Regions from separate parts of the Homo sapiens genome. Here all the other regions are linked to region 1. Evidence: fine-mapped QTL for protein levels in blood plasma. A gene starts in region 1. Each other region holds a variant in brackets. All regions are shown on one strand. Distances are between the middles of the regions.

Region 1 (2,683 bases):
ATCTTCAACCCCCAGCAAAGCGGCCTCGCCAGCTGCTAAAGGGTTAATTACCAAAAAGAGGGCATGCTCCCTCCAGAGGCTCCTCTGGAGAGTGCAAAAACAAAACAAAACCAAAAACCAACTAACCACAACAAAAAACATCTTCCCTGGGAATAAATTTGAAGCTTATCAGGTCTTTAAGCCACATTTCCCAGCCCATAGACTCCTGGTCCCTGTCTCCCTTTGCTTTGGGAAACTCATTTACCCCCAAGCCTCCTGAAATGATCCATGTGCCGTGAGATGCCCATAGGGTTGGGGACTTGAAAATGAGTTATTCTCCCACAAAAAATGGCTTAGCTTTGTCTTTTTGGGTGGCTGACAGGAGACATAAAGTATCACTCTCTCTTTTTACCCCTCCTCACAATAGGATGGAATGAGTGTGGAGAAAAACAAAGGTATTGTGGGACCAGGATGGAGTCAACTTGACAATGGACTCTTCAAGGACACCTTCCAGCTCCCATTCTACTAGTAGCTCTATTTGATTTTGTGGGATGTTGTGTTCCTCCAACATATCCGACTTCTGCTTATAAAACAGAAATTAGGAGTAAGAGATTCGCACCGCTAGTTCAGTGGATAATCATCAGTTCTGAAGCATTAAAATCCTTTGCCAACAAGAACGTTTCTTCTAAGGAAGGAAGCATCCTAATCATGAAGCCAGGGTCTCCAGCCCTCCCCTGTCTCCCTCCTCCCCTCCAGGGCTGTGCTCACTCACATCCATGGACATCTCCCTCTGCATAAGTTTCTTGGTCTCCTTTTCACAGAAGTTGAGCATGGCCTCCCGGTTGTACACACCCGTGGACTGTTTCTCCGTCTGGTTTCTCTGCCGCAGCCCCACGGGAACACTCCCGTCTGGGTCCACCACGTCCAGCTCCTTCTCCAGCTCCTCCATCTCCTCGGGAGACAGGGTCTCCAGCAGGCTGTCGATGTCGGGGTCTTCACTCACCTGCCGGCGATATTTGGCTACTCTAGACATCTTGGCAAAATGGGCTGTGGCTGCCAGGGGCTATCAGAGTCCTGGTGGGCAGGGAAGGGAGAGGGGTGAGCTGATCTGGATGCAGCGAGTGGGCTGAGGAGCAAACCTCCTGCTGGTCGAGGACTGCAGCTCCTTGGCCCTTCTGTGCTACAGGTGCTGAAGTGTTCACTGGACGCAGCAGCCTCCCTGAAGCCCAGGGCTAGTGGACCCCGGCTGGTCTAATCAGCGGCCAATAAGACCCGACAACTGCCAGGCCCGGAGAGGAGAAGCCAATCCCCAAGCTGGGGGCGGGCCTACCTCGCTGTCAGAGCTGTTTGAAACTTGAGGACATTCCAGGGAATCTTGGAGCGCTGCGTGACCAAATTTAGTACAGAGCAGTTTAGCCTTTTAAAGACAAGGGGCCACGCAATGAGAAAAAGATACAAAAATGCGTAGGCTGGCAGAAGCAGATCACAGCCACGGAGAGCCAGACAAGCAGGGACGAGGCCATGAGGGCCGGTGAACTCGCCAGCCCGGGGCACGTTCAAGAGCGTATTTTACTACTCCATCACCGGGTGGACGTATCACTGTGGTCAATGTGTGGTTCATGGACTTCCTTCTACAGTATTTGGTAATGTGCTGGGGGGCTCCCAGGTGTATACAGCTCCAGGAAAGTCTAGATTCAAGATGAGGAGCTGTTACTCCTAACCCCCTGCCTACCCATTTTCTTTCTACCCAGGTTCTGCCAAGGAGGACCTGAAGGCTGAGCATCAGAGGCTCCAGGATCCTTTGGCCACTTCTTAAGAGAGAGACAGGAGACAGAAAGACAAACTTAGAGATAGAGATAGCTAGGCAGGAGAGGGAGAGAGAGAGAGAGAGAGAGAGAGAGAGAGAGAGAGAGAGAGAATAAATCCTTACTGTGTACCAAAACTGAAAACTGGCAGGCTGTTTGGGAAAGAGAGAAGGATCTGCAGAAGTCGGGAAACTCTTAAAGGGCTGTCACTTTCCATGAAGTTCCAAGGCTCTTGGGAAGAGGGTTCAAACCTCCCCCTGTTGTCATCTGTTTCTTCCTCTGCCGGGCATCTGTAGACAGACCTCCTTTGGGAGCACAGAGGCAGGTCACCACCCACATATAAATCCAGAGCACGATTTAGTATGTCTTCAGGGAAACAGAATTCTGGGCCGTCGGGAGAGATACGATTGCAACAGGTCTGGCATGTTTCATAGAAGGGCTTTCCACTGCTCATCCATCATGCTGCCCTGCACAAGTCACAGAGACATTCAATCCCCTGCCCCCCTTCCTCCTGCCACAAAATCCCTTCTAGAAGCCCTGGTGTAACCCATCAGGGTAGATGCTTCGATCTTTCCTGGCATCTTTCCATCCTAAGCCAGAGAGAGACAGTCACTTGATCAGCATTTGCTGAGTCCAGGGATCGTCTGGGACTAAAACTTGGCCGTGCCATTTAATGTCCACTAGTCCAACTTTAGGTTAAGGCTGAAGAGGGGAATGGTGTCCACTGGGGGGACTGAAGGGCAGAAGGAAGGCAGGCAGACTTGATAGGAAGAGTGGAAGAAGACTTTAGGGAAACCTGGGGGTTGTCATTTTAAGAGTCAGTAGCCAACTTATTGGTCAAACCGTAGGTATATATTTATTGAGTGATTTATCAAGTGCCTATTATATATCAGGCATTG
Region 2 (2,683 bases), 49 kb before region 1:
CCAACAAACAAAACAGACCTGAGCTCTGACTTTTATTAGCTGTGTGATCATGGATATATTAGTTAACCTCTCTGGGCCAAATTCTATCTGCAAAATAGAATATTGGTATCCACCTCACAGAGTTGAAGGATCAGCTGAAGCAACCTAAAGCATCTAGCTAGTGCCCAGTGCCCAGCAGGCACAGGGGGGTGCAGTGGGACTGACAGTGAGGGCTGACAGTGGAAGCTCTAGCTGGCCTTAGCTCCAGCTCATACCCTTTAGGTCCAGGAGCCAGTGTGTGTCTGTCTCCTCTCCTCTGGGCCCAGTGATTGCTTAGGTGACTGGGGTGACAGGCAAGTGGGTGGAGGGAATGGAGAAGAGTGTACCCTGGGATCTGAGGGCTTTACCCCCAGGACTAGACTGCCCTCTGGTTTTGGTCAGACCTAGCACAGCGATCTTGCTTCCTAGCTGGGGCACCCCACCCTCACCTCAAAGATGGTGAAACTGCTGTGCCTCCTGCTGTTGAGGCAACCTGGAGGCAGAGAAACCTACAAGTGACACAGACCCAAGGTGGCAGTTCCACAGTGCCAAGGGGTGGCAGCACCTTCAAGAGAATGAAATTCAGAAAGATGCCTTTCACCTACACCCGATGGTGGGCATGGCAGCATTGTCAGCATTCCTGCAGTTGGGGCAGGAAGTGGAATTGGTGAGCAGGTGGGGAGGGCTGGGGAAGATGAGGCCCCTCTGAGCCCTAGGGCACACAGATATGGGTGCTATTCTCCAAATAGTCACTCCACTTCTCTGCCTGCCGCCTTCCTGGGCCTGTGACTGCTGTGAGGACCTGGCCCTGAGCCCATGGTTAGGCAGAGTCATGGAATGAGCATCCCTGAACATGCCTAATATAGCCATCCCAGCACCCTGGGCTCCACTCTGCCCCAGCACCCCTGAGAACAACTCTGGCTACTGACTCCAGGCAGCAGGACTGGTTCAGGAGCAGACCTAGTAGAGGCCTGGCCTTCTAGACCTGGACAACCAGGTCAGTGGAGAGTCTTCTGCTTAGAGTTCAGATTTTCCTCCATGCTGCACTTTCTGAGGATGTGAATTTATTTCTTGGCCAACTCAAATAGTGTGGCAGGGAACCTGAGCTTCTAGAGTCCTCCAGGGAGCCCAGGGTTAGGATCAGGACTCACAGTTCAGGACAACAGGTGGGGCACAGCCATTCACAGCTAAAGGTTTGTATATATTATCAAAATCTTATGGAAAAACAGATACACAGCTATTCATACAGCAGCAGGTGGGTGTGAGGAAAATGTCTGCTTTGGCATCAAACCTTCAAGTCCAGCTGCTGTCTGTCCCACTCCTCCTGTCTGGAGCCTACTCCCATCAGGCACTGTGCATCCAGGCCACTGCCCCTGCCACATCCTCTAATTAG[C/T]CTGGACTTTGGGGTATCCTCAGCCCCTCCCCACGCTCCCCTTTGGGCCCCCATGCCTCTCCATCTTTCTGCCATTTTCCCACACAGAGTGCCACTGGCCCAGCAGCTTTGCCCCGTGGGCTCCTCAGAGGCCTGAATCCTGGCCCTGGAGGGCAGTGGGGCTGGGGTGGATGTGGTCCCTGTGGGACATCTTTCCTGGATCACAGGCCTTTTGCAGCTTGCCAGCTACATGGGCCCTGGACAGTGCCATCTTCTCAGTGATGTGCTAAAAGGACTCTTCTTGTCCAGAAACCTGAGCTCCATGTACTAAAGCAAAATTTGGAGAGCCTCAGAGACAAGAAAAGGAAAGTGAGAAGAGATAAGGCATCCTTCCTTGAGCGTGACCCAGGCCTGGACTCTCCCATGGCAGAATAGGGACATCCACAGCAGGTCAGCCAGGGATGGGGTGGGCAGGGTCTGTGTAGCCCTGGGAGGTGAGGCCTGAGCAGTCATGGCATTGGCAGATGGTGCCTGGCAGCCTGGTCCTACTGAAGCAGTTTGGGCACTTCCACCTGTAGGGGCAAAGTAGAGACAGGTTAGAGAAGGGAGCTCAGCCACCTCACCTCCCTCCCTACTGGAAGGACACACAAGACACTGCAATATGTTATGTCTGTGGAATGTGAATGAGGTGTTGACACTGAGGGAGCATTTTTCATTGTCTGTAAAAATTGGATGTCATTGAGTGACCACTGGAATTACAATTGAGATTTTCCTTTATCTCATGATACCTTGTCCCAGATGATGTTGTGGGGGTTGGGTATCCAACCAAATGGACAAACGATCGTGGACTTTGTCACCCAGGCCAGACTTCCAGGGGAGGCAGGGCTTGGAGAAGTAGGGTGTCCAGGGATGGCTCCTGTGTCCATGGCACTGGCTAGGCAAAGGTAGACTCTCCTGAGAGGTGAATCTCCCAGAGACCTTTCGGATGGACTGACCTGTAGGACTTGGCTGGTCCTGAGAGGAGGCTAAGTAAAACGTGGATCATTTTTGTTTGGGGAAATGGAGAAGACTTAAAGGAAGGACCCGAGGCAAAACTACTCTGTAGAGGCCATTTCTCCATTTTAAGGAGAAACAGGCTTCATTGCAGAATGAAAGAGAAGCATGGAGTGAGGTATTAAAGGAAGCTCCTTAAAGGAAGGGTAGAGTCTCAGCTCTAGGGGATATACAGGTGTGACCTGCCTGCAGGCAGGAGGATGCATGAGATGACCTGAAGTCCCCTATGGGCCCTGGGAG
Region 3 (2,683 bases), 20 kb before region 1:
GGTGACCTCTCTAAGCCTCAGATTCTTCACCTGTCAAGTAGATTAAAATTTACCTCCCCTGTCTACCTTATAAGGCTGAAGCAAGGATCAAAAGAGATAACGTATGTGGAAGCCCATAAATCTTCAGACCCAAGGCATTAGGTTCTGCTTTTATTGCGCATGGATGAGCTGGGGCATATTGTGTGATGTTCTAAGACAGCAACTAAGTACTTACCTACAAGCTTCTGGGAGTAAGACACTTTCCATTTTTCTTGGAAGGGGAAAATTACTTTGCATGACCATTTGGTTATGGTTTGGTATTGGTGTGGAATGTTTTTAGGGTAGGGCCCTGTAGAAGCAGGAGGATGAACCAGTTGACCTTCTCTTCTTGACATCCACCCAAGACCTGAAATTTTTCAAGGCTGGAGGCTTGTTTTTTTTTTTTTCAATCTCTTTCTCTTTTCTATTTTTAATTTTTTAAATTTTTTTGAGACAGGGTCTTCCTTTGTGCCCAGGCTGGAGTGCAGTGGTGTGATCATGGCTAACTGCAGCCTCAACCTCCCAGGCTCAAGTGATCCTCCCACCTCAGTTTCCCAAGTAGCTGGAACCACAGGCGTGCACCACCATTCCTGGCTAATTTTTAAATTCTTTTGGAGAGACTGGGGGGCGGGGTCTCCCTGTGTTGCCCAGGCTGGTCTCGAACTCCTGGGCTCAAGCAGGCCTCCCATCTCAGCCTCCCAAAGTGTTGGAATTACAAGTGTGAGCCACCACACCCAGCCAGTTTTCTTTTTAGGTAGTAACATTTTTTTCCTCCCCAAAGGAAGAAAAACCAGGCATATGTGCTCTATCTATACTGCATACAAACCGACACATTTCCCCACAGGGAGTCAAAGCGAGAGGGAGGTGGGGCTTTGCTCTGCTTGGCAGATGGTCCAATATTAGGAACTTGATCCTCTAAAAGAATAACATGTGTGGCCTTATGTTTCTCTGGGCTATGGAGTGTCTGTGCTGTGAGCTGACCATAAGTCTCTGCGTTTCCAGTGCCCAGTGAGTCTTTTTTCTCTTTTAGGGGCTTTGTTTCACCCATCAGCCCATAAGGCTCAGCTGGGGAAGCAGTGTGTTAACTGTTCTGTTTATCATCTTGTTTGGCTGACTCCATCTCTCTGGGGATGGGCGCCAAAGGCCAAGAGAAGGAGCCCGTGCTGAGGCTCTGGGGATCTGTTTAGGGCCTTGGAAAGTGTATTTATTGGGAGCCATGTAAATGTCCAAATATAGGCAAATGGTTCAACACAGCCATACAA[T/C]AGACTATGATGACATCCACTGAAAACAATGTTTAGGAAGAATTTTAGTGACATGGGAAAAGCAATTATAATATGATAAGCAAAAATATAAATAAATAAGGTAGGGAACACAATTTATGTGAATATGTGGCTGTGCATTAAATGATCTCAACTACAAAAAGAAAAATACATACAGAATTATACACTCAGAAAAAACTGAAGCAGGGAGCCGTAGCTCACAACTGTAATCCCAGCACTTTGGGAGGCTGAGGAGGGAGGATTGCTTGAGTCCAGGAGTTTGAGACTAGCCTGGACATCATGGCAAATCCCTGTCTCTACAAAAAATACAAAAAAATTAGCTGGGAGTGGTGGCACGTGGGAGCAGTAAGCTGAGATTGCACCACTGCACCCCAGCCTGGGCAACAGAGCAAGACCTTGTCTCAAAAACAAACAAACAAGAAAATTGACAATGGCTGATATCTTTAGCTAAGACAAAGAATTATTGGCTATTTTCCTTTTTTTCCCACGTTTTGCATACTGTCTATGATGAGCCTTATTACATTATAAGCATACTTTTCTTCAAATAAAACAAATTTAGAAATATCATGTCTGTGTTCTTTGTATCACCCCCTTCTCCTGCTTTTAAGGCAAAGATTACAGAGACTGGAAGTAAAACCAAAAGCCTCCCAACCTGAAAGAACTTTGACCACTGGAACACTTGAGTCTTTAGTACTCTGGGATCATTATTAGATATTTTCTTGGTGATTTAAAAATTATTATACTTGGCTCACGCCTGTAATCCCGGCACTTTGGGAGGCCGAGGTGGGAGGATCACGAGGTCAGGAGATTGAGACCATCCTGGCCAACATGGTGTAACCCCATCTCTACTAAAAATACAAAAATTAGCCGGGTGTGGTGGCGTGTGCCTGTAATCCCAGCTACTCAGGAGGCTGAGGCAGGAGAATCGCTTGAACCCAGAAGGCAGAGGTTGCAGTGAGCCAAGATCACGCCACTGCACTCCAGCCTGGTGACAGGGCTAGACTCCATCTCAAAAAACAAACAAACAAAAAAAACAAAAAAAAAAAAAGAAGAATTTGTTATACTTTTCAGTGAAGTTGAGGACATGGGACAAGTGGGTTATCACTAAGTAGCAAGTGGAAGAGATGCTGCCATTGGGGTAGGTGAGATGATCCACCTTGAGGAAACTCAGTGTAAGCAAAATGGCGCAATGTCAGCCCTTGACAACTGGAATTTCAGAAGACAATTTAAGCCCTTACTGCCCTAAGGCATCCATTATATAGAGTTAATTTCTTCCCTATGAATTCAGAATGGGACCAGCTAGAATCTTTGGGAGTGCTGTGTTTGGAATGTGTCCTCCAAAGTTCATACATTGGAAACTCAATCCCCAGTGCAGTGATGTTGGG
Region 4 (2,683 bases), 29 kb before region 1:
TTTATGAAAAAGAAACAAAATTGTCTTTAAATAACTGAGTTTCACAGCAAAAACAAAACAAAATTAAAAACCAAGAGGCATCAGGCCGTGGTGTGGGGAGGAGGGATGGATGGGGCCAGAGGTGGGAGGGAGGGGATTCCCCGTCACTGTGCTCAGTCTTCAGCCCGGCTGTGCTGTGCCCAGGACCTGCCTCGCAGCCTGACCTTCGCCTGGCTCTGTTCCAGCAATTACACATCAGCCCCGGTGATAAACATCAGTGCTGAGCAGAGGGCCAAAGGGTCTCAGGCACTGCCTCCAGCTCCAGCATAAACAGAAACGCCATGATTCATTTTTACCTCCCAAGATGATCTCCAGGGGTCGGAGTGGCGCAATGGCAGCCAAGAAAAGGGCAGCGGTTTGTGAACCTGGGAAAAAAAGGGCATTTTCTGATGCAGTCCTGCGGGAGACCAGGCTTTACAAGAGGAGTGAACGCCACCATCTCAGGGCCTGCTCTGTCTTTGTAGGGAAGGGGAGCAAAGAAACCTTCTGGAAAAGACAAGGATAATGTGCAGATGTGGGTGGCTGGGCACTTACACTGCATGTGTCACCAAACTCTGCCAAGGCTGGGAGGGTTCTTGCCTGCCTTGAGTCTTTAAGGACCAGGGTTTCTAGTGAAAGGGATGGTAAATGGGGGAAGGTGGCCTGACCTCAAAAGCCTGCCAAGAGCCATCAAGAGGCACCAGAAAGGAAGGCACGGTGAGCGGTGTCTGTGTTTCACCTAGGCCCTTACCCCTACCACCAAGGCTTCTGCATTCACTGCAAGTAGAGAAAGACAGAGGCGTTTTGAGGTGAGGGCATGCAACACAGCCTGCAATAGCTAAGACTTCACAGTCAGCGCCATTCTGGCTTCTGCCTGGGGGTTATGCAGAACCCATCACTAGGGGGATGAAGGTTCTTGTGGCAGATCTTCTCGGCCAATGAAGGGTCAACTCCATTGCTCTCAGCAGAACTAAATGCTTTGCCAACTGGTCTGGTGACTCATACTGGGAAGCTTGTAGCAAACCCCATTTTTGGAGAAACCGGGAAATCTCTTTGGGGAGA[TA/T]AACAAGTCACTGTAGCACTCTGCTCTCTGAAGTGCCTGGCTAGTACTTTCTGCTTCTTCATTTTATCCCAGCACCAAGGAAAACCCAAGCAAGTCTGGGAAATGTTGTAAAGATCTACACAAATGCAAGCTATTTGTCCCAGGCTTCTGGGTCCCACTTAGGTCCCGGAGGGTGGCAGAAGGAACATACTGTTCTTTTACTGCCTGGGGCTGTGAGCAGGAGGCCTGGCTTTCATACAGCCCCTCTCCTGTTCCTTCTAAACAGAAAAGGGTACATTGGCTAAAGCAGGAGCAGCTTTATGGTGTCTGACCTCTGCAGTGCTCCAGGGCCCCATGCTCAGAGGGCCCTACGCTTGGTTTAATTCTCTGCTGTCATCGTCTTGAAAGTTTTAGTAATTCTTGAGCACATTTTCATTTTGCGCTAAGCCCTGCAAATTCTGTAGCCAGTCCTAGGCCTAAGAGGCCAGGGATCAGGGATGGTGCAGCTCTCTGTCTTCCCGCCTTCTCCCTCTTCAGGAATGGCTCTCCCACCCCACAGACACTGGGACATCAGCCTTGACGCTTCCTTTTTCCCTCACCACGTTCCCTTCATCCCACCTTCCTAACATAGCTGAGATTAGCTTCCTCACATCCCCTCACCATTGCTGTGTTTGCGGCCTCCATCATCTCTTGCCTCCCCACTGAACCCCCTGCCTCCTGTCTTCCTTCTCTTTGAGTGCACTCTGTCTCCAGAAAGACCTTTCAAAATGTGATTCTGATCCATGGCTCCCATGCTTTCAGGATGAAGTGCAGACTTTGTAGCATGGCAACAAAGCCCTCCGTGACCTGGCCTGTGCCTGCCTCTGTGCGCCCTCCCCTTCCTGCCTGCACTCTGGTTACAGTGAGGAACAGCCACGCTGGGCTCTCTTGGGTCTTGCTGCCCTACCCCATGCTGGGCTCTCTTGGGTCTTGTTGCCTATGCATGCTGCTCCTGCCACACAGGATGTCCTCTCGCTTTCTTCTCTGCCTGGCTAACACTTCTTCTTTTGTTCCTCCTCCTTCTTTTTAACTTTATATGTGGAAAAGTTCGACTGTACAACAAACTAGAGAGAACAGCACAATGAACCTCAAGGTACCCATTGCCCAGCTTCAGCGATTCTCTACATATGGCCAATCTTGTTTCATCTGATGCCCACCCATTTTTGTCACAATCTCACATTATTTGAAAGCAAATTCCAGGTGTATCATTTCATGCATACATATTTCAGTGTGTACTCTATTTCTTTTTTAGGGACAGGGTCTCACTCTGTCACCCAGGCTGGAGTGTAGTGGTATGATCATAGCTCACTATAACCTCAAACTCCTGGGCTCAAGTGATCCTCCTGCCTCAGCTTTCCGAGTATCTAGGACTACAGGCATGTGCCACCATGCCTGGCTAACTTTTATTTTTGTAGATCTGGGGTCTTGCTATGTTGCTCAGGCTGGTCTCAAACTCCTGGCCTCAAGCAATCCTCCCGCCTTGGCCTCACTTTTGCTGGGATTACAGGTGTGAGCCACCATGCCTGGCCTCAGTGTGTATCTCTAAAAGACAGAAACTTTTTTTTTTTTGGGGGGTCAGAGCCT

Direction of the effects. Positions count from the first base shown, and alleles are read on the strand shown. Strength reflects both the effect of a copy and how common the allele is.
For the plasma level of the protein whose gene starts at base 1,220 in region 1, allele T in region 2 goes with a higher level than allele C (weak association).
As copies of T replace C in region 3, the plasma level of the protein whose gene starts at base 1,220 in region 1 goes down (moderate association).
For the plasma level of the protein whose gene starts at base 1,220 in region 1, allele TA in region 4 goes with a higher level than allele T (moderate association).

Evidence for each region. PIP is the chance, under the fine-mapping model, that this variant and not a neighbour inherited with it causes the effect. The UK Biobank Pharma Proteomics Project read protein levels with antibody pairs (Olink). The fine-mapping took linkage between variants from a reference panel, not from the people measured, so its PIPs are less certain.
Region 2: its variant is fine-mapped to the plasma level of the LMOD1 protein (UK Biobank, PIP 0.92).
Region 3: its variant is fine-mapped to the plasma level of the LMOD1 protein (UK Biobank, PIP 0.94).
Region 4: its variant is fine-mapped to the plasma level of the LMOD1 protein (UK Biobank, PIP above 0.99).

Annotation. Positions count from the first base shown.
Region 1 is chr1:201,945,329-201,948,011 of GRCh38, forward strand. It overlaps LMOD1 (leiomodin 1), which reads right to left and starts at 1,220. Exons shown (of 3, transcript NM_012134.3): 1 at 752-1,220. The coding sequence starts at 1,012.
Region 2 is chr1:201,896,437-201,899,119 of GRCh38, forward strand. LMOD1 (leiomodin 1) reads right to left here. Exons shown (of 3, transcript NM_012134.3): 3 at 20-1,962. The coding sequence ends at 1,936. Among named protein-coding and RNA genes, the nearest start is that of SHISA4, 8.9 kb to the left of the region's middle. The variant C/T (reference allele first, on the strand shown) is at 1,412.
Region 3 is chr1:201,925,256-201,927,938 of GRCh38, forward strand. The region is part of intron 1 of LMOD1 (leiomodin 1); the gene reads right to left. Among named protein-coding and RNA genes, the nearest start is that of LMOD1, 20 kb to the right of the region's middle. The variant T/C (reference allele first, on the strand shown) is at 1,281.
Region 4 is chr1:201,916,561-201,919,243 of GRCh38, forward strand. The region is part of intron 1 of LMOD1 (leiomodin 1); the gene reads right to left. Among named protein-coding and RNA genes, the nearest start is that of LMOD1, 29 kb to the right of the region's middle. The variant TA/T (reference allele first, on the strand shown) is at 1,081.